2 separate regions of the Homo sapiens genome follow, and region 1 is linked to region 2. Evidence: fine-mapped expression QTL. A gene starts in region 2. The other region holds a variant in brackets. All regions are shown on one strand. Distances are between the middles of the regions.

Region 1 (9,930 bases), 47 kb before region 2:
CACTGGACTTTCTAGCTAGACAACAAGCCATGAAATGAAAACAGACATATAAATAATAAAAAGGATAATATAAAATTGTTATTTGCATGCAGTAAGATTTTCCACCTAGGAAATCCAAATGAATCCACTGAAAAACCATTAGAGGGTTTAACAAATCCACAGCAATACACAAAAGAAATACCTTTCCACATACCATACACTTAGAGACAGAACCAAGAAGGTTTCGCAATGTTATCACAGAAAAACCTGGAAACAACCTAAATCTACTGACAGAATGGTTCACTAAATTTCAGTATATTCTGAGTGTGAGATATATTCTATCAATCAGCTGTACTGCTACAGAAAACATTAAAAACAAAGTAAATGTAAGAAGAAAACAACAGGCTCTGGAACACTATATATAGCATGATCCAATTTACTTAAGAAACAAATACTAGGCCGGGTGCAGTGGCTCATGCCTGTAATCCCAGCACTTTGGGAGGCTGAGGCCAGCAGATCACTTGAGGGCAGGAGTTCAAGACCAGCCTGACCAACATGGTGAAACCCCATCTCTACCAAAAATACAAAAATTAGCCAGGTGTGGTGGCAGGTGCATGTAATCCCAGCTACTCGGGAGGCTGGCAGGAGAATCACTTGAACCTGGAGGCAGAGGTTGCAGTGAGCCGAGATCGCGCCATTGCACTCCAGCCTGGGCAACAGAGCAAGACTCCTCTCAAAAACAAAACAAAACAAAAAACCACCACTGAGAATAGGTATGTTTTTAGGTATAAGTATGTATATGAAAAGAAATACATGTGGAAGAAACTTCCCTTCAGAAAGGGGAGTAATTTAAGAGGGCTTTCACTTTCTTTAACCTATGTATTTCTGTCTGAAATTGTAGCTGGACGTGGTGGTGCACACCTGTAGTCCCAGCTACTCAGGAGGCTGAGGTGGGAGGATCACTTGGGCCCAGGAGTTTGAGGCTGCAGTGAGCTATGGTGGCACCACTGCACTGAAGCCTGGGAAACAGAGAGAGACCCTGTCCCTAAAAAATAAAAAATAAAAAAATATATACTTATGTATTGCTTGTGTTATTGGGCTGAAGATCTGGGAAACTCTGGCGTCATCCCTTCGTGATCCATTTATCTACCAACTCACTGATAAATATCCAACACCTGCCAGGTATCTCACACTTGAAACAGGTAACATGATACATAATTCTTAAAGTGCAGGGCTACAGAACCCTAATTCTAATAGCCTACCAGGTATTTTTTTCAGTAAAGACCTGCAAGAGAGCATCTACAAATTCTCCTCTTTAACCACACATTTGGAATCCTTGACTGAAAACTCATTAGCTTTTTCCAAAGGCAAGCTGTATTATAACTAAGCTGGAAAATTTTCTCTTTATTCATCCAATAGGGTTATTTTGAAAGACTCCAGCTGGGGCTGGGCACGGTGGCTCACGCCTGTAATCCCAGCACTTTGGGAGGCCGAGGCAGGTGGATTACCTGAGGTCAGGAGTTCTAGACCAGCCTGGTCAACACAGTGAAACCCCATCTCTACTAAAAATACAAAAATTAGCTGGACGTGCGCCTGTAATCCCAGCTACTCAGGAGGCTGAGGCAGGCGAATCGCTTGAGCCCAGGAGGCCGAGGTTGCAGTGAGCCAAGATCACGCCACTGCACTCCAGCCTGGGCAGTAAAGCAAGACTGCATCTCAAAAACAAAACAAAAAAAAAAAAAAAAAGAAAGAAAGACTCCAGGTAGACTTAGACATAATTCTAACCTTAGATATATTATAGACCCAGCTTGGTTATTAGTATTGAAAATGCTCTTAAAACCACCGTGTCATATATATTTCACACAAGAAGAAATAAATTGAGTAAACATGTGGAAAAATGTTATGTTCACCTGTTAATAAGCAAAAATAAAAAATAAAACAACTCATTAAATTAGCAGACTTTGAAAAATATTGAAAATGGCTACTAATATTGAAGAGACCTTGAAATTACTGCCTGCAACACTGCTAACGGCAGCACAGATTCGAGAGTATTAGCAATGTTTATTAAAAGTCACAAAATACTAGTCTCTGAAACAAAAATCTCATGACTGAGATTGGCTTTTAGTAAATAGTTGCCATGAAGAAAAACAGTTCTTTGGGCAAAGCTTTAATGAGTGCATTATTTATAATAACAAACTTTAGAAACAACCTAAATATAAAAAAAAAGTGTAACAAATAAACTGTGGCACAACCATTCAATGGAACGTTAAACACAATTTTCAATTATTTTATAAAGAAACTGTAATAACATAAAAAATGAAAAGCAATGAGTAATTTTAAAAATCTTCACTCAACTGGGAATGTTATTTTTATAGTGTAAAAGATTAGTAAATTTTTTTTTTTTTGAGACAGATTCTTGCTCTGTTGCCCAGGCTGGAGTGAGTGGCATGATCTCGGCTCACTGTAACCTCTGCCTCCTGGGTTCAAGCGATTCTATTGCCTCAGCCTTCTGAGTAGCTGGGATTACAGGCGCCCGCCACCATGCCTGGCTAATTTTTGTATTTTTAGTAGAGACGGGGTTTCTCCATGTTGGCCAGGCTGGTCTCGAACTCCTGACCTCAGGTGATCCGCTGGCCTCTGCCTCCCAAAGTGCTGGGATTACAGGCGTGAGCCACCATGTCCGGCCTTTATTTATTTTTCTTTTTTATTTATTGGCCACTATACTATTGGGAAAAATTTTTAAATATAGTCATAATTTAAAAATAATTAATTTAAAAATTATGTCTTTTTTTGGTTTTTGTTTTTGAGACGGGGTCTCGCTCTGTTGCCTAGGCTGGAGTACGGTGGCGTGATCTCAGCTCACTGCATCCTCTGCCTCCCAGGTTCAAGCAATTCTCCCACCTCAGCCTCCTGAATAGCTGGGATTACAGGCGCACCACCATGCCCGGCTAATTTTTGTATTTTTTAATAGAAACAGGGTTTCACCATATTGGTCAGGCTGGTCCCAAACTCCTGAACTCAGGTGATCCACCCTCCCCGGCCTCCCAAAGTGCTGGGATGACAGGCGTGAGCCACTGTGCCCAGCCCATAAATTTGTAGGTCATAATTTGACTTAATAAATTTTAAGTCATAAATTAAGTCATAATTTGAAAATTATGAGTATACAGCAATATAGAAATCGAAAAATTTCTTATGTAAGCTCAATGATAAAAGCAGAAAACAAAATTTTACCTGCACTCTCTCAAATTACAGCTATATAAGATATCTATTCAGATGCATAACCCTGAAAGAAAACATGAGCTAAAGTTCATTAGGCTGAAAGAATGATGGTTGGTTTTCCTTCAAAATATTCTTTTTGTTTCCTCAGTATAAGCAGAGTACAAAAAAAAAGTCAAAGCATAGAAAAGCTGTGGGGACCCACCTGCTGCTCCTTTCTAAGGAACATTTCAATCTCTGTATGAGTCCGGGCCTCTTCTTCGGTTTTCATCCTGAGTTTCTGTAAGAACAATCAGATACCAGTACGTCTTCCCCGCAGGGCTGGGAATCAGAAGTTCTCAAGATGAGAGCAGCAGCTCGGTCGGTAGCTGAGGCTCCCTTTACCAGCTGGGATCCCGGGCTTTCAGTTCCCTGCAACTCCTGTTCACCAACACTGCAGAGCCACGTGGCGCGGCACTGTGTGGACTGCGTGTGTCCCTAACGAGACGAGCACAATCCCGTGAGCTGAACAGAGGTGCCCACTGAAGGACAGAAACGGCGCTCCAAGGGCACAAGGCTGTGGGGCTTAAAAAGGGGGATTCCGGAGTGCCAGGAAGAGTGTTGACGTGGCCTTGAGCCACGTCAGTCTCAGAGCGAGGAGTCCTCCCACACACAGATTCCACGGCCCAAGGACGTTTGTTCCTGCTTCCCTCTTCCCATCTGCCTGCTGCTCTTTCTTGTTTTCTTTTCTTTTTTGTGAGAAGGGAGTCTCCCTAGTTGAAGTCTGAAGTTGCCCAGGCTGGCTTCAAACTCAAGGATCCTCCTGCCTCACTGCCTCACCTCCGATTAGCTGGGACTAGTGCCTGGCTTTGCGTG[T/TGTGC]GTGCGTGCGTGCGTGCGTGCGTGTGTGCGTGCGTGCGTGTGTGCCATTTAGCATTCCCCTCAAAGAAGATCTACCACTTCTTTCTTCCTCCTGGCATTTTTCACCGTGACTTCTCATCCTATAAACTCAGGTTTGAACGAAGTTCAGCGCTCTCGATGCTGTATTTCTTACTGGAGGAGTGAAAGGTACTGGTTAGATGAAAGAAACAGCAGCAAAATCCTGCCATAACTAAGCACCTCGTTTTGCCCTCTCCCTATAATTAGTCAGAAAAATGGTGATTGGTTTGCCAAAATAAGAAGTGACCAAGGAGAGAAAGTGCAGCCAATTTTCAAAGTCATTATGAGGCGGGAGATGGAGGCTACAGCCCACTGGAATCTCTGCTTGCGAACACGCATATCCTCATTTAGGCTTTTATTTTCAACCTCAAGTGGAGGGGCTGTTGCCGATAGAGATGGAGGGAAATCTTTGTCTCCCTCCTTTGTTAGCTGAGAGGGGATCAGGAGTGACAGCTCAATTGCCATCTCCTGGGTTCTTGGCTAATGTCCCAGGGATTACCTCAATCTCTTCCACCAAGAGTTCCTCTGTTCTGTTACACTTTTTCTGGGTCTGGGCAATCTGCAGCTCGGTATTGGTTTTCATGTAGCGATTCTCCAAGTTGGATTTTGCCTTCATCTCTTGCAGTTGGTCCTTGAGGTTAGCAATATACTCATTCTGACTCTGTAGTGGAAAGACCAGGTTTCTAAATTGAAAATACATTCTACCTCCATTCAGTTCAGTCAGCGGCTTACGGTTCCCTTTTATGCGTATAAATCAATAAGGAACTGGAACTATTTTTCCGCTGTCACACAATGGGAAATTTAGCCAACAATCATGAAGTGTATAGATGAAAGTGAGTAACACAGCATTTCTAAGAATCAGGGCGCATCAGGGCTGTGAGATTAGTTCCCAGGCACATTATTGCTGTACTCCGTATGTCCCACACAGCTTTCTCATTTTGGTAGGAAGAACACTGGTCAAAATGATCAAAAGAACTGACTTCCCACCCAGGCCTCCAGCTGTGTGAACTTGGCCAAGTCAAATCTCCAACTTTTTACTTTCTATAAAACAAACACACAAACATACAAACACCCAACCTGCCTGAAGTATCTCAGAGAGTGATTATTAGGTTTCCTTGAGAACACGTGTGAAAACGCTTTCTTTTTGCAGGTCACCAAGTGCTTGGCAATTGTGAGGACTCAATAGTCATTAAGAAAAATATTTATTCAGCACCAGGCACTGAGCTAGGAAAATTGTGGAGATCTAAACAGACATATTCCCTTCCCTCATAGAGCTTACAGTCTAATAGAAGAGAGGTGGTTAAAAAGAGACAAACACATGTGTAAACTTCCAAAAATTGTGCAAAATGATAGAAAAGGAAGGCTCGAGAGGCTGTGGGAGGAAATAACAAGGGAGGAGTACATTAGACTCTGGAAGGTCTGAGAAGGACTCTCTCGGGAAAGCGATGGCTCATTCGATACCTGAAGGACAGGTAAGCCCACCACATGAAAAATAGGCTTGGCCAGGCACGGGGGCTCACGCCTGTAATCCCAGCACTTTGGGAGGCTGAGGCATGGCGACCAGCTGAGGTCAGCAGTTTGAGACCAGCCTGGCCAACATGGTGAAACCCCGTCTCTACTAAAAATACGAAAAATAGCTGGGAGTGGTGGCGGGCGCCTGTAATCCCAGCTACTCGGGAGGCTGAGGCAGAAGAATCACTTGAACCCGGGAGGTGGAGGTTGAAGTGAGCTGAGATCATGCCACTGCAGTCCAGCCTGGGTGATAGAGCGAGATTCTGTCTCAAAAAAAAAAAAAAAAAAGAAAAGAAAAAGAAAAAAAGGAAAGAAAAAGAAAAGAAAAATAGGGTTAAGGGAACTCTAAAAAAAAAAAAAAGAATAAGTATATGCCCAAATCCTGAAGCAATCAAGACCTGGATACATTCCAGGAACTGAAAGAAAGCTCCGGAGGCTCTAGCCTAGTGAGGGTTGAGGGGAGGACAGGATGAGGTTGGAGGTCGGTAAGGGCACCACACAGGACCCCGGAGACCCAACTGAGAAATTCAGATTTTATTCCAACTGTCATGGGAATCCTTGGAAAGCTTTTAGTCAGGGAGGTAACATTTGTTTGAAAAGAACTGTTTGGGCGGAATCAGTGTGTGAGTAAGTCCACAGGGAGGGGACCTGACGGCACAGCAAACAAGCACACGACTAGCAACAAAAGTGCTTCAACCCGAGACCTGCTCCTCTAGATACCAACCGCCTTTCTTCTCTTTTTACATTTTTTTTGAGATGGAGGCTCGCTCTTGTTGCCCAGGCTGGAGTGTAGTGGCATGATCTTGGCTTACTGCAAGCTCCACCTCCCAGGTTCAAGTGATCCTCCTGCCTCAGCCTTCTGAGTAGCTGGGATTACAGGTGCTCACCACCACACCCAGCTAATTTTGTATTTTTAGTAGAGATGGGGTTTCTCTACATTGGTCAGGATGGTCTTGATCTCCCGACCTCAGGTGATCCACCTGCCTCGGTCTCCCAAAGTGCTGGGATTACAGGCGTGAGCCACCACGCCTGGCCTCCAATTGCCTTTCGTCTTAACCATGTAAGTAGGGTAGAATTAGTTCTTTTGTATTAAAAAAATTTTTTTGTTTAGAGACAGGATCTCCCTCTGTCACTCAGGCTGGAGTGTAGTGGCTCGATCACAGCTCACTATAACCTCCAATTCCTGGGCTCAAGCCATCTTCCCAAGTAGCTAGTACTACAGGTGCATGTCACCATGCCTGGCTAACTTTTTAATATTTTTAGAGATGGGGGTCTCACTCTGTTGCCCAGGCTGGTCTCAAACTCTTGGCTTCAAGGGATCCTCCTGCCTTGGTCTCTCAAAGTGCTGGGATCACAGACATGAGCCACTGCGCCCGGCTTTGTTGTTGTTGTTGTTGTTGTTGTTTTTGAGACGGTCTTGTTCTGTCACTCAGGCTGAAGTGCAGTGGCATGATCACGGCTCACTGTAACTTTGACCTCCCAGGCTCAAGAAATCCTCCTGCCTCAGCCTACAGAGTAGTTGGGACTACAGGTGCATGACATCACACTCAGCTAATTATTATTATTATTGTAGAAACAGAGTCTCACTGTGTTGCCCAGGCTGGCCTCGAAACCCTGGGCTCAAATGATCCTCCCACCTCAGCCTCCCAACATGCTAGGATTACAGGCAGGAGCCACTGCTGCAGCCAGCCTCTTTTCTTTCTTGAGATAGGGTCCACCGTGTCCCCCAGGCTGTAGTGCAGTGTCACCAGCATAGCTCACTGTAGTCTTGAACTCCTAGACTCAAGGAATCCCCTCTCTCCAGCCTCCCAAGTACCTAGGGAATTAATTCTAAGTAACCATTGGAAGAAAAAACAAAGTGGTAATTGGACAAATCCTCCGTTAAGGAAAGCAAGCATAGGCAGCGGTGTCCAATCTTTTGGCTTCCCTGGGCCGCACTGGAAGAAGAATTGTGTTGGGCCACACACAAAATACACCAATGATGAACTAAAAAAAAAAAAAAATCACACAAAAAAATCTCTCATAATGTTTTAAGAAAGTTTACGAATTTGTGTTGGGCCCCAGTCAAAGCCATCCTGGGCCGCATGTGGCCTGCGGGCTACAGGTTGGACAAGCTTGACTTAAAGTATCATTAGGCCCCAACCTGGTGGGGTGGCTCACGCCTGTAATTCCAATGCTTTGGGAAACCAAGGCAGGAGGCTCGCTTGAACCCAGGAGTTCAAGAGCAGCCTGGGCAACACAGTGAAAACCTGTCTCTACAAAAAAATTTAAAAATTAGCTGGGCCTGGTGGCATGCGCCTGTAGTCCCAGCTACTAGGGAGGCTGAAGTGGTAGACTCCCTTGAGCCCCGGAGGCCGAGGCTGCAGTGAGCTATGCTCATGCCATTGCACTTTAGCCTGGGCAACAGAGCAAGACCCTGTCTCAAAAAGGTCCCTAAGATGAATCAGAACGGAATTCTTCAAGTTATTTTGTCTACTAGCTTCTTGATATAACTCTGCAGAATCATTCTAATTGTATGACAGTTATTCCAACTAGATCGGAATCATTCCTAAGAGACGGAGCATCTCTGGCACAGAATATGCTATAGGCCCTTTGAAAATATGTCTTAATATTTCATATTCTCTTACAAGTTGTAGGATTGCAGGCAAATTACTGGACCTCACTAAGCCTATTTTCTCATCTGTAAAATCCTGCCCAGGCTGGAGTGCCTGGCACAACTTATATGCTCAATAAATGTTGATGAAATGAATTTTAAGAGATGTCTGCTTTTGGCTCACTGTTTTTCTTCCATTCTTTCTATACGCACTTCCCTTCTCCCCTGTCTTCCCCATTTCTCTTTTCTCTTTTTTTTTTTTGAGACAGAGTCTCGCTGTGTTGCCCAGGCTGGAGTGCAGTGGTGCGATCTTGGCTCACTGCAACCTCTGCCTCCCGGGTTCAAGCGATTCTCCTGCCTCAGCCTCCCAAGTAGCTGGGATTACAGGCATGTGCCACCATGCCTGGCTAATTTTTTAATTTCTTTTTAGTAGAGATGGGGTTTCACCATGTTGGCCAGGCTGGTCTCCAGCTCCTGACCTCAGGGGATCTGCCCGCCTCAGCCTCCCAAAGTGCTGGGATTACAGGCATGAGCCACCATGCCCAGCCCATTTCTCCTCCTTCTTCCTCTTCCCTCCCTTCTATTTCCAAATTGTATGGCAGTCAGTGAATCTTTTTTTTTTTTTTTTGAGACAAGATCTCTCTGTTGCCCAGGCTGGAGTGCAATGGTGCGATCTTGGCTCACTGCAATCTCCGCCTCCCACCTCAACCTCCCGAGTAGCTGGGCCTACATGTACGTGCTACCACGCCACCACACCCAGCTAATTTTTTGCTTTTTTTTTTTTTTTTTTTTTTTTTGGTAGAGATGGGGTTTTGCCATGTTGCCCAGGCTGGTCTCAAACTCCTGGTCTCAAACAATCTACCTGCCTCGGCCTCCCAATGTGCTGGGATTACAGGCATGAGCCACTGTGCCTGGTATAGGTTTGAATCTTTAGGAAGACTAGAGTTAAAGCAAAAATGTGATGGTTTTACTTCTTCATCAACTGGAATCCTTTTACCTATATAATCCCTTAGATTTCCTTCAAGGTCCACCTTATATATCACTCAAGTAAATAAAGCCTTTTGCAGAAAACCTCAGCCCACATTGATAACTGTAGTTTTGTTTCTCACAGAATCTAAATAGTGTTAGACAGGGATTTATTGAATAGTGTCCGTACATACAAAAATATACTTTTGAAAACTCAAGAGCATGTTCTGGTAATTTTTCTTTCTCAAATGGAATATTAAGACTTCAGAGTAACAGTCTGAAGATCAGAAATGCAGAGTTAAAAGTCTTTAGCTTCTGCCCATGGTAAACAGAAGGTACTGCATCATGGAAGTGTTTTTTATTGTTGTTGTTTTAGACCGAGTTTTGCTCTTGTCGTCCAGGCTGGAGTGCAGTGATGCAATCTTGGCTCATTGCAACTTCGGTCTCCCAGGTTCAAGCGATTCTCCTGCCTCGGCCTCCCAAGTAGCTGGGATTACAGGCACCTGCCACTACGCTGGGCTAATTTTGTATTTTTAGTAGAGACAGGGTTTCTCCATGTTAGTCAGGCTGGTCTCAAACTCCTGACCTCAGGTGATCCACCTGCCTCGGCCTCCCAAAGTGCTGGGATTATAGACATGAGCCACCATGCCCGGCCAATGTAAGTGTTTATAAGGACGTACAACATTGGCTGTGCCAAGCCAAAGGCATCTGGTTTTAATGCCGTTGCCATGGGCCTCTGAGTACCCTGAGTT
Region 2 (9,817 bases):
CGTGATTACAGCTTACTGCAACCTCAACCTCAACCTCCTCGGCTCAGGCAAACCTCCTGCCTCAGCCTCCTAAATAGCTGGGGCCACAGGCATGTGCAGCCACAACCAGTTAACTTTTTAGTTATTTGTGGAGATGGGCCTCACTATGTTGCCCAGGTAGTACTACATTTCTAACTGATGCAGTAACAGTCTTTTTGTCTGCCCCCTGAGGGTTACTGATCTCTACAGCACAGGTAGTTTTTTAAATTAACATCTTTAAATTGCACTGAAAATGTCAACAAGAAACTGGGAGTTTGCCACCTAAGCCCTTTTGCAGTTTTGCAGCGTGTATGGGTTCTCTTGTCTATGCTGCAAAAGAATTAACATGCTGGAAATGTATTAGGATAAGAGGGTGAAAGAAAGGATTGGGTAGGAAAAGCACACTGGCTGTTGTGTTATTTGGTCTTCCATCTCCTGGAGACAGGACTGAGAAGGAAAGTTTTTGTAGTAAGGGAAAAGAGTGGGAATACTGTCCAGCTTTCCCACTTCCCCTTCCTCCAGTAACATCCTGTTACAAATCTGCTAACCTACAAAGAGGGTAGTGAGATATACTGACCCAAGAGAAAGCAAGACGCCCTCCCCCAGAGGTCCCTCTGTCACACTGGCAGTTCTAAGAAAGGTTTGGTCAGTCCAATGGTGGTATGCAAGCCAAAGCTGCCATTGTTGGAGTCCCGTGCTTCGTGGACATGGGCTTGTGTTAGTACTCTGCCAGGCTCATTTATTAGGATTGTGGTGGTTTTTTTTTTTTTTTTTTTGAGACAGTCTTGCTCTGTCGTCTAGGCTGGAGTGCAGTGGCGCAATCTTGGCTCACTGCACGCTCCGCCTCCCGGGTTCACGCCATTCTGTCTCAGCCTCCCAGGATTGTGGTTTTAAGGCAAACAAAGTGCACTGATGCTGTATTCACCAGAAGTGAGCAGTACTTCAAGGCCGGAAGTTGGAAGTTGTATATTAGAATGCTAATGAAATTGAACTTGGGAATTACGCAGTCAGCGCGAGGAAGTGCTGATCTTGGACACCCACTCCAAAAGGCCAACATAAGCTAAAAGTACCTACTGTGTTCATTGTGCCAGTTAAGTAGATGTGATCAGTAGTACTCGGGGTATTCAGGGATAGAGGCATGTAGGTATACTGGCTGCGTAACATAAAACCGTAAAGTGTAGAGGAAGAAATAGGGCGGCATCTCAAAGAGGAAATGGCAGGAAGATTTTAGGAACACAAGTGGCTGACTGGAAAGTCCAGAAAACTAAAATGCCACATGAGAGGTCTCCTGTACTGAACTGAGGATCTTAGGCTTAAGATTGTTCTTGAGTGTAATACAACGTCACTGAAGAACTTGATTCACAGGAAATTTTAAAATTTACTCATTTGAGACAGGGTTTCTGTTGCCCAGCCTGTAGTGCAGTGGTGTGATCATAGCTCACTGCACCTTTGAACTTCTAGGCTCAGACAATCCCCTGCCCACAACCTCCAGAGAATCTGGTGCATGCCAGGCACGTCCAGCCAATTAAAATGTTTTTTCGGGGTCCCAGGCTGGTCTCGATTCCTGGCCTCAAGTGATCCCCCTGCCTTGTTCTCCTAAAGTACTGGGATTACAGATATGAGCCACCAGCTCAGATTATTTCAAATCCCAATGGCATCCCAGCATAAACAAGGGAAAATTAGGTGGGCTTTTCAGTCTCAAATGGAGAATTCTAACATGTTTCTGGCTTTGGGGGCTGGATGGATAATGGTGCATTTACAAAGTTGGGGAATCAGGAGATGGTTTTGTGGGAGGAGCTAAAGTTGAATTTGAGGAAGCTGTAAGATGTTAACCTGTGGACATATCCATGAAGACAGATGGGTATTTCAGGTCTGGGTTAGGCATATGGAGAAGTGGATGGTATTCTGAGTGGAACAGACACACGGTAAGTGGTAGGCATCTGAGCAAAGCGGGGGAAAACAAACGGTTGAGACTTTAACTCGAGTAACTTACATGTGCAATGGCAAATGAGACTCAAAAGCAAATACATGCTCTTCCTTACTGAGATGATGCAGCATTTGTAAATAATAAATGTATGTTTTTATGTTTTTCTCCTCCCATATGGAAATTAAGTCAAAAGTACTCAAGTCACCGTTGCCAAAGGAGGAGTCCTGTGGTTTACAGGAAAGGGCTTGCGTGGCTGGTAACTTGTCCACTACACCATTGAAACAGCTTTGCCTCCTGGCTGGGCGCGGTGGCTCACGCCTGTAATCCCAACACTTTGGGAGGCGGAGGCGGGCGGATCACCTGAGGTCATGAGGTTGAGACCAGCCTGGCCAACGTGGTGAAACTACGTCTCTACTAAAAACATAAAAATTGGCCGGGCGTGGTGGCGGGTGCCTGTAATCCCGGCTACTCGGGAGGCTGAGGCAGGGGAATAGCTTGATCCCGGGAGGCAGAGGTTGCATTGAGCCGAGATTGTGTCACTGCACTCCAGCCTGGGCGACGAGTGAAACTCCGTCTCAAAAAAAAAAGAAACAGCCTTTCCTCAGCATAACACTATTGTTACAGCCAGGAGCTTAGGATGACTGGTTCCATTCTTTATTCACAATAGCAATTTATTTGTGGTATTGTAGTGGAAAGGGCACGTTTCCTAAGTTACAAATGTGGTTTGGAATCCCACCTTCCACTAGTTGTGGGATGATACACACATTTAGTGAGTATTTACTTGTAAAATGGTAATACTTAAAACACCACCCCATCCTCGTAGCTGAATCTCCACCCATAGTTTGTAACTTGAGGTTTTCCTTCTTTCCTACTCCTTCATTTCCCAGTATAGTAGCTTACCTATTCAATTCCCGTTGAATGACTTCCAGCTCAGTGAGTTCGTAATTTTACTTCTTAGTGTCATGAGCCACTGGGATTTGTCCCAATTTCCCATTTTGTATAGTTCCTCACGGCTCAGTTTCGAAGGCAAGGTTTCCTTAATGGCCAGGATCCCCCTTATCTCAGGTGCAGTGGCAATTCTTGGCTGGAAACTAAAAGATGGAGTTGAGTAAAACAGTAAACGGTGTATCATAGATTTTTATAGGAAATGGCGTTAGTTAAGTAATGGGCCTAAAGTTGGTGACTCAGGATAAGTAAATGAAAGTATTCCACTCACCTTTTCATACAGAGGACTACACTGAAAGATTTTGCAGAGGGTTGTATGTACGTCTAAACACCTGGCACCTAGTAGGTGCATGTCACTTTGGTAAATGAAAGAACTGAAAAACTGCCTCAAGACACCCACATACGGCCAACGCCCGCTAGCCTTTCTTCCTCCCACAGCCCCACTCACGTGGGCCTCCAAACAGCATTTATTGGCCGGCTTCGCGCCACGAGACGCGATGGACGTGATCGCCGCCCTCATCTTCTGCGGCGAACTTCTAGCGGGTGACGCTGTCCAATCGGAAAGCGCCTTTCCGCCGGCTGGGCCCTCCGTCTACCCCCAGCGGCGAGGGGCGGGGCCGGCGCGGGCGCAGAGGCGTCACGCACTCCATGGTAACGACGCTCGGCCCGAAGATGGCGGCCGAATGGGGCGGAGGAGTGGGTTACTCGGGCTCAGGCCCGGGCCGGAGCCGGTGGCGCTGGAGCGGGTCTGTGTGGGTCCGAAGCGTTTTACTCCTGTTGGGCGGGCTCCGGGCCAGCGCCACATCTACTCCCGTCTCCTTGGGCAGTTCCCCTCCCTGCCGGCACCACGTCCCCTCTGACACTGAGGTAGGGCGACATGGGCGGGAGCGGGCCCTCTCAGGGTAAAGTCACCCAGAAGGAGCAGGCGTAGGAGATAGTGACTGGGAGAAGGTGTCCTGGATGAGAAAGCGAAATTGGGGCAGAGCCTGACTCTTACAGGCCTGGGACCCGCTCTCAGCTCCCTACACCCTGCAAGTTGGCTGTTAGGCGCTCAGAACAGTATCACTTCTGTGCGGAGGGTTGTGCTTAGCAGTAGCCCTCGAGGAGTGGTTTTCAAACTTGAGCGTGCATCACAGTCACCCGACGCACATGGTACAACACGGATTGCCGCCCTCAGTCCCCCACTTAGTGACTCAGTAGGTCTGGGATGAGTCCCCAGAGTTGACAGTTTACGTTCCCAGCTGGTTGGTGAGATATGCTTGTCCGGGGACCACTTTAGGAACCGCTGACCTGAAGTTTCGGGAAGACATTGAACGGAGAGCCAGATAGAGGCGTTGGTGGGACGTTGGGGGCTCACTGGAGACAAAATTCAGGTTTCTTTTCACGTTATGTCGTCACTTTGTTTGCTTTACCCGGTTCCTCTGCTCTGGAAGTGCCTGCCCGCCTCCCATCCCATTTTTCTCTCTGCTTAAATTCTTTGTCTCATTTCAAATTCCCTAACCTCAAGGCAGCCTGCTGAAACCACCACAGCGCAATATTCTTTTCATTAAAAAGTACATCGTGTCTGTACTCCCTCCTGGCATTTAACCAAGTACTGCTATGGGATAATGGCTTATTTTTTAGGCGTATCTTGCCTTTGCAGTTAGATTATAAGGTTCCGTGGGATAAGGTTTGTGTTTCATACTTTGATTCCTTCACAGTATTTAGGTCAGAGGTGGGTCCACGATAATCCATATTCTTTGAGAAAGGGAGAGTACCTGGGGCAGGGCTGCATGCTGATACACCTACACATGTTCAATTCAGCCCAGAAATCTAAAGACACTCATTTTTATGGTAATTTCCCAAAATGTTACATGCATACTCTTCATAACCAAGTGAGCCAAAATATTAACTTCGGAGTTTATAGCTTTTTTGCAGCTTTTATCATGCTGCATTTTCGCTGAATTCTTTAAAAAAAATTTCCCACAAAACCCTGCACTTCTCTCTTTTAATTTGGATTAAAATAAGAGAAAGAGTCCTGGTCCCTAATACGTTTCGCTAGTTCCTCATAGAGTATATAAATACCCTGTCGTCCTCACTATTCTCCTTGTTTTAACCTGGACACGGAGTATAGCCAGGAGCTACAGTGTTCACTGTAGTTACGCTAATGACTATACCTCTGTTCAATGCTACAGGAAATTACATAACTTTTTTGGTTTTGGTGGTGTTGGGGAGCTACAAAACAGTTTTACTTTTTAACTGGTTCTCAACTAAAGCCTGTAAGTTTTGTTTTTACCTTTTATTACGCCGGTACAAACAACATCAGAATAATTTAATGAACCCGCATGGACCCATCACCTAGCTTTAACACCTAGCTTTAAGGTTCCGCCATTCTTGTTTCATATACTTTCAGCCATTCCGCAGCCCCCTACTTGAGTTACTGTTCTTTTGAAGTTTTTTGGTAAAATTTACATATATTGAAATGCCACAAATGTATCCATGCACATCCACATAAAGCATACAACCCATCACAACATAGAACGTTCCCACATCTCCAGACGTTCCCTCCTGTCCTGTGCCAGTCTCCTGCCCACCCCAGGCAACTAGTTTTCTAATTGTTTTTTTTTTAAATACTAGATTAGTTTGGCCAATTCTAGAGCTTCGTGTATTGAATGGAATTATATGGTATGTACTCCTCTGTATTTGGCATCTGCTCAGCATTATGTCTGTGAGATTCGTGTTGTATGTGATAGTAATTTATTCCTTTGAATTGCTGAGTATTCCATTGAATACTTATATCACAATTTGTTTTTCCGTTATCTTGTTCAAAGATGGGTATTTTGGTTTCTTCCAGATTTTAGCTATTATAAATAAAGCTGCTGTCAATATTCTTGTACAGTAATTTTTGTGGATATATGTTTTCATTGTTCTTGGATAAATACCTAGGGGTGAAATTACTGGGTCAAGGGTAGGTGAATGTTTATAAAAAATACTAACCCTTTCTCCAAAATACTCTACCATTTTACACCCCCATCAACAAAATATTAGTTATGGTTGCTGCATATCCTCACCAACAGATGTCCTTTCTAAGAAATCTTTAAATACCCCCTAGGTCATAAAAATATTCTCCTGTGTTCTAGAAGCCTTCACTTTTAGGATTATGATTCATCTGAAATTAATTTTTATATATGATGTGAGATAGGGGATCAATATCCTTTTTTTTTTTTTTTGCCCCATATGGGTATTCAGTTGCCTGGATTATGTACCTCTGTAATAAATATTGAAATCAGACAGTATTGTTATTGTAAGCATTCCTGCTTTGTTCTTCCTTTTCAAAATGATTTTGGCTATTTTAAGGCTTTTATATTTCCATATAAATTTATTTATTTTTTGGCAGGGGGAGGCTCAAAGACAGATCCATATAAATTTTAGAGTCAGCTTCTCAGTTTCTTCAAAAAAGCCTGATGGGTTTATGATTGGGATTGCATTTACTCTATAGATGATTTGGAGATAATTGACATCTAACAGTATCAAGTCTTTCAATCCATGAACATAATGTATGTTTCTCCATTTATTGAGGTGATGCATAATTTTTCTCAGCAAAAATGTATAGATCTTGCATTTTTTCTTCTGTTTTCTTTTCTCTCTCTTTTTTTTTTTTGTTTTGTTTTGAGACAGTCTTGCTCTGTCACTCAGGCTGGAGTGCAGTGGCAGAATCATAGCTCACAGCAGGCTTGAACTCCTGGGCTCAAATGATCCTTCTGCCTTAATCTCCCAAGTAGCTGGGACTCCCAAGTATGCGCCACTACACTTGGCTAATTTTTTATTTTTTGTTGAGACAGAGTCCAGGTGGGTTTTGAACTCCTGGCCTTAGGCGATCCTCCTGCCTCGACCTCCCAAAGTGCCAGGATTACAGGCATGAGCCGCCGTGCCCAGCCAGATCTTGCATGTTTTTTGTTAAATGTTTTCCTAAGTCTTTTATTTTTTGATGCCATTGTCAGTGGAATTATGGTTAAAGTTTTCCAGTTGTTTGCTGCTAGTATGTAAAAATACACTGCTAGTAGGTAGAAATAATTTTTGTATATTAACCTTGTCTTCTGAGACCTAGCTAAACTTATTTATTCTACTAGGGTTTCCTCCCTTACAATTTTTGATGTTAGCAATGTATTAACTATAAATAGGAACAATTTTTGTTGTTGTAGTTTTGTATCATTTATGTATTTTTTCCCCCTTATTGCTCTGGTGAGGACAGGCAGTTCCAGGCTGAGCAAAAGTGAGATAGCACGCCTCCTTGCCATTTGTTCCTGATCTTAGGACCAGTCTCTGACCATTAAGTATGATGTTAACTTTACATTTTTTTGTAGTTCCCTTTATCAGATTGAGAAAGCTCCCTTTGGTTTCTGGTTTCCCGAGGGTTTTTATCCTGAATGGGGACAAATTTTGTCAAATGCTTTTTGTTTTTTCTGGTAATTATTGAGATAATCATATAGTTTCTCACTTTATGAACTGTTATGTGGTAGATTACATTGCATTTTCCAATAGTAAATCAACGTTGCTTTTTTGGGATAAACCTTACTTGGTCATGTTGGCTTTGGTAATTTTCTTTAATGTTTGTTTCTATTTCATTGTTTTCTGTTCTTTGTTATTTCCTTTTTCTACTTATTGTGGATTTAGTTTGCTCATATTGTTAGGCGGAAACTTAGATGACTGTTTTTTAACCTTTTTTTCCTTCTAATGTAAACATTCAAAGATATAAATTTCTAAGTACAACTTTAGCTGCTCTTCACAAATTTTGACACTTTGCATTTTAATTATCATTTAGGTTAAAATTTTTTTTTTGTTTTTTGTTTTTTGTTTTTTTTTTTTGAGACAGAGTCTTGCTCTGTTGCCCAGGCTGGAGTGCAGTGGCGCAATCTCAGCAGAGCAACCTCGGCTTCCTGGGTTCAAGCTATTACCCTGCCTCAGCCTCCTGAGTAGTTGGGACTACAGGTGCACGCCACCACACCCAGCTAATTTTTGTATTTTTAGTGGAGATGGGGTTTCACCATGTTGGCCAGGATGGTTTTGATCTCTTGACCTTGTAATCTGCCTGCCCTGGCCTCCCAAAGTGCTGGGATTACAGGCGTGAGCCACCACGCCCGGCCTAAAAAAGTTTTTTAAGAGACAGGGTCTTGGTCGGGTGCAGTGGCTCATGCCTGTAATCCCAGCACTTTGGGAGGCCGAGGTGGGTGGATCACCTTAGGTCAGGAGTTTGAGACCACCCTGGCCAACATGGCGAGACCTGTCTCTACTAAAAATACAAAAATTAACCAGGTATGGTGGCGGGCACTTTTAATCCCAGCTACTCTGGAGGCTGAGGCAGGAGAATTGCTTGAATTCAGGAGGTGGAGTTTGTAGTGAGCTGAGATTGTGCCACTGCATTCCAGCCTGGGCGACAAGAGCGAAACTCTGTCTCAAAAAAAAAAAAAAAAAGAAAGAAAGAGACAAGGTGTCCCTCTGTCACCCAGGCTGGAGTGCAGTGATATGATCATAGCTCACTGCCACCTCGAACTCCTGTGTTCAAGCAGTCTCCCCGCCTCAACCTTATGAGGAGCTAGGACTTCAGCCACATGCCACCACACCTGGCACATTTTTTATTTTTATTTTTGTAGAGACAGAGTCTTGCTGTGTTGCCCAGATTGGTCTTGAACTCCCAGTTTCAAGCAATCCTCCTGCTTCAGCCTCCCAAAGTGCTGGGATTACAAGCGTGAGCCACTGCACCTGGCTGAGATTATTTTATTTATGGTTTAGAATATGATCTATCCTGTTTAATTTTTCACGTGTACTTGTGAAGAATATATATTCTATAGTTTTTTTTTATTTTATTGTTTTAGAGATGGGATCTCAGTATGTTGCCCGGGCTGGTCTTGAGCTCCTGGACTCAAGCAATCCTCCTGCCTTGGCCTCCCAAAGTGCTGGGATTATAGACATGAGTCACTGTACCTGGCCTATTCTGTAGTTATTGAATATAGATTTCTATACATGTTAATAAGCTGAGGTGATTGATACTTTACTTCAGATTTTCTCTATTAAAAACTATTGGCCAAGTACAGTCACTCATGCCTATAAGTCTAGCTCTTTTGGAGGCCGGGATGGCAAATCGCTTGAGCTCAGGAGTTCAAGACCAGCCTGGGCAACTTAGTGAAACCCCGTGTCTACAAAAAATACAAAAATTAGTTGGGTGTGGTGTTGTACACCTGTAGTCCCACCTACTTGGTGGGGCTGAGGTGGGGGAATCACTTGAGCCCAGGAGGTGAAGGCTGCAGTGAGCCAGGTTGGCACCACTGTGTTCTAGCCTAATAAAGACTGTATTAATACAGGAGAAAATAGGTGTATTTAGCTTGCTTGTGGTTCAAGCTTACATGTGTATCTTTTCAGTTGCCTACATTTACCTGTGTGTATGTGTGTGTGCTTGTGCATTTTAGGCATTACAACATATATCTTTTGTTTATTGCATGTTTTTATTTTTGAGACAGAGTCTCTCTCCGTTGCCCAGGCTGGAGTGCAGTGACACAATCTTGGCTCACTGCAACCTCTGCCTCCTGGGTTCAAGCAATTCTCCTGCCTCAGCCTCCAGAGTAGCTGGGATTACAGGCACCTGCCATCATGCCCGGCTAATTTTTGTATTTTTAGTAGAGACAAGTTTCGCCATGTTAGCCAGGCTAGTCTCAAACTCCTGACCTCAAGTGATCCACCCGCCTCAGCCTCCCAAAGTGTTGGGATTACAGGCATGAGCCACTGCACCTGGCCTATTACATCTTTAATGTTAATATTATCACACTGTCTGGGGCATGATGTTGAATAAGAGTGGTGAGAGTAGACATCCTTGTCTTGTTTCTGATCTTAGAGGGAAAACATTGTCTTCCACTGTTAAAAATATTAATTGTGGAGTTTTTGGGTAGGTATGCT

Direction of the effects. Positions count from the first base shown, and alleles are read on the strand shown. Sizes are in standard deviations (SD) of each study's normalised expression.
With allele T in place of TGTGC in region 1, the expression in prefrontal cortex of the gene that starts at base 3,308 in region 2 is lower (moderate effect, 0.43 SD a copy in CommonMind).

Evidence for each region.
Region 1: its variant is fine-mapped to the expression of DRC9 in prefrontal cortex (CommonMind, PIP 0.95).

What each region holds. Positions count from the first base shown.
Region 1 is chr3:197,909,275-197,919,204 of GRCh38, forward strand. DRC9 (dynein regulatory complex subunit 9) reads right to left here. Exons shown (of 12, transcript NM_032263.5): 8 at 4,607-4,768; 9 at 3,401-3,475. It overlaps LOC124906330 (a long non-coding RNA gene), which reads left to right. Exons shown (of 2, transcript XR_007096246.1): 2 at 1-1,057. Among named protein-coding and RNA genes, the nearest start is that of RPL35A, 36 kb to the right of the region's middle. RefSeq lists enhancers at 3,357-4,556, 3,940-4,571. The variant T/TGTGC (reference allele first, on the strand shown) is at 4,051.
Region 2 is chr3:197,956,684-197,966,500 of GRCh38, forward strand. It overlaps DRC9 (dynein regulatory complex subunit 9), which reads right to left and starts at 3,308. Exons shown (of 12, transcript NM_032263.5): 1 at 3,162-3,308; 2 at 2,846-3,036. It overlaps LMLN (leishmanolysin like peptidase), which reads left to right and starts at 3,534. Exons shown (of 17, transcript NM_001136049.3): 1 at 3,534-3,757. The coding sequence starts at 3,563. RefSeq lists an enhancer at 2,311-2,811 and a silencer at 3,363-3,592.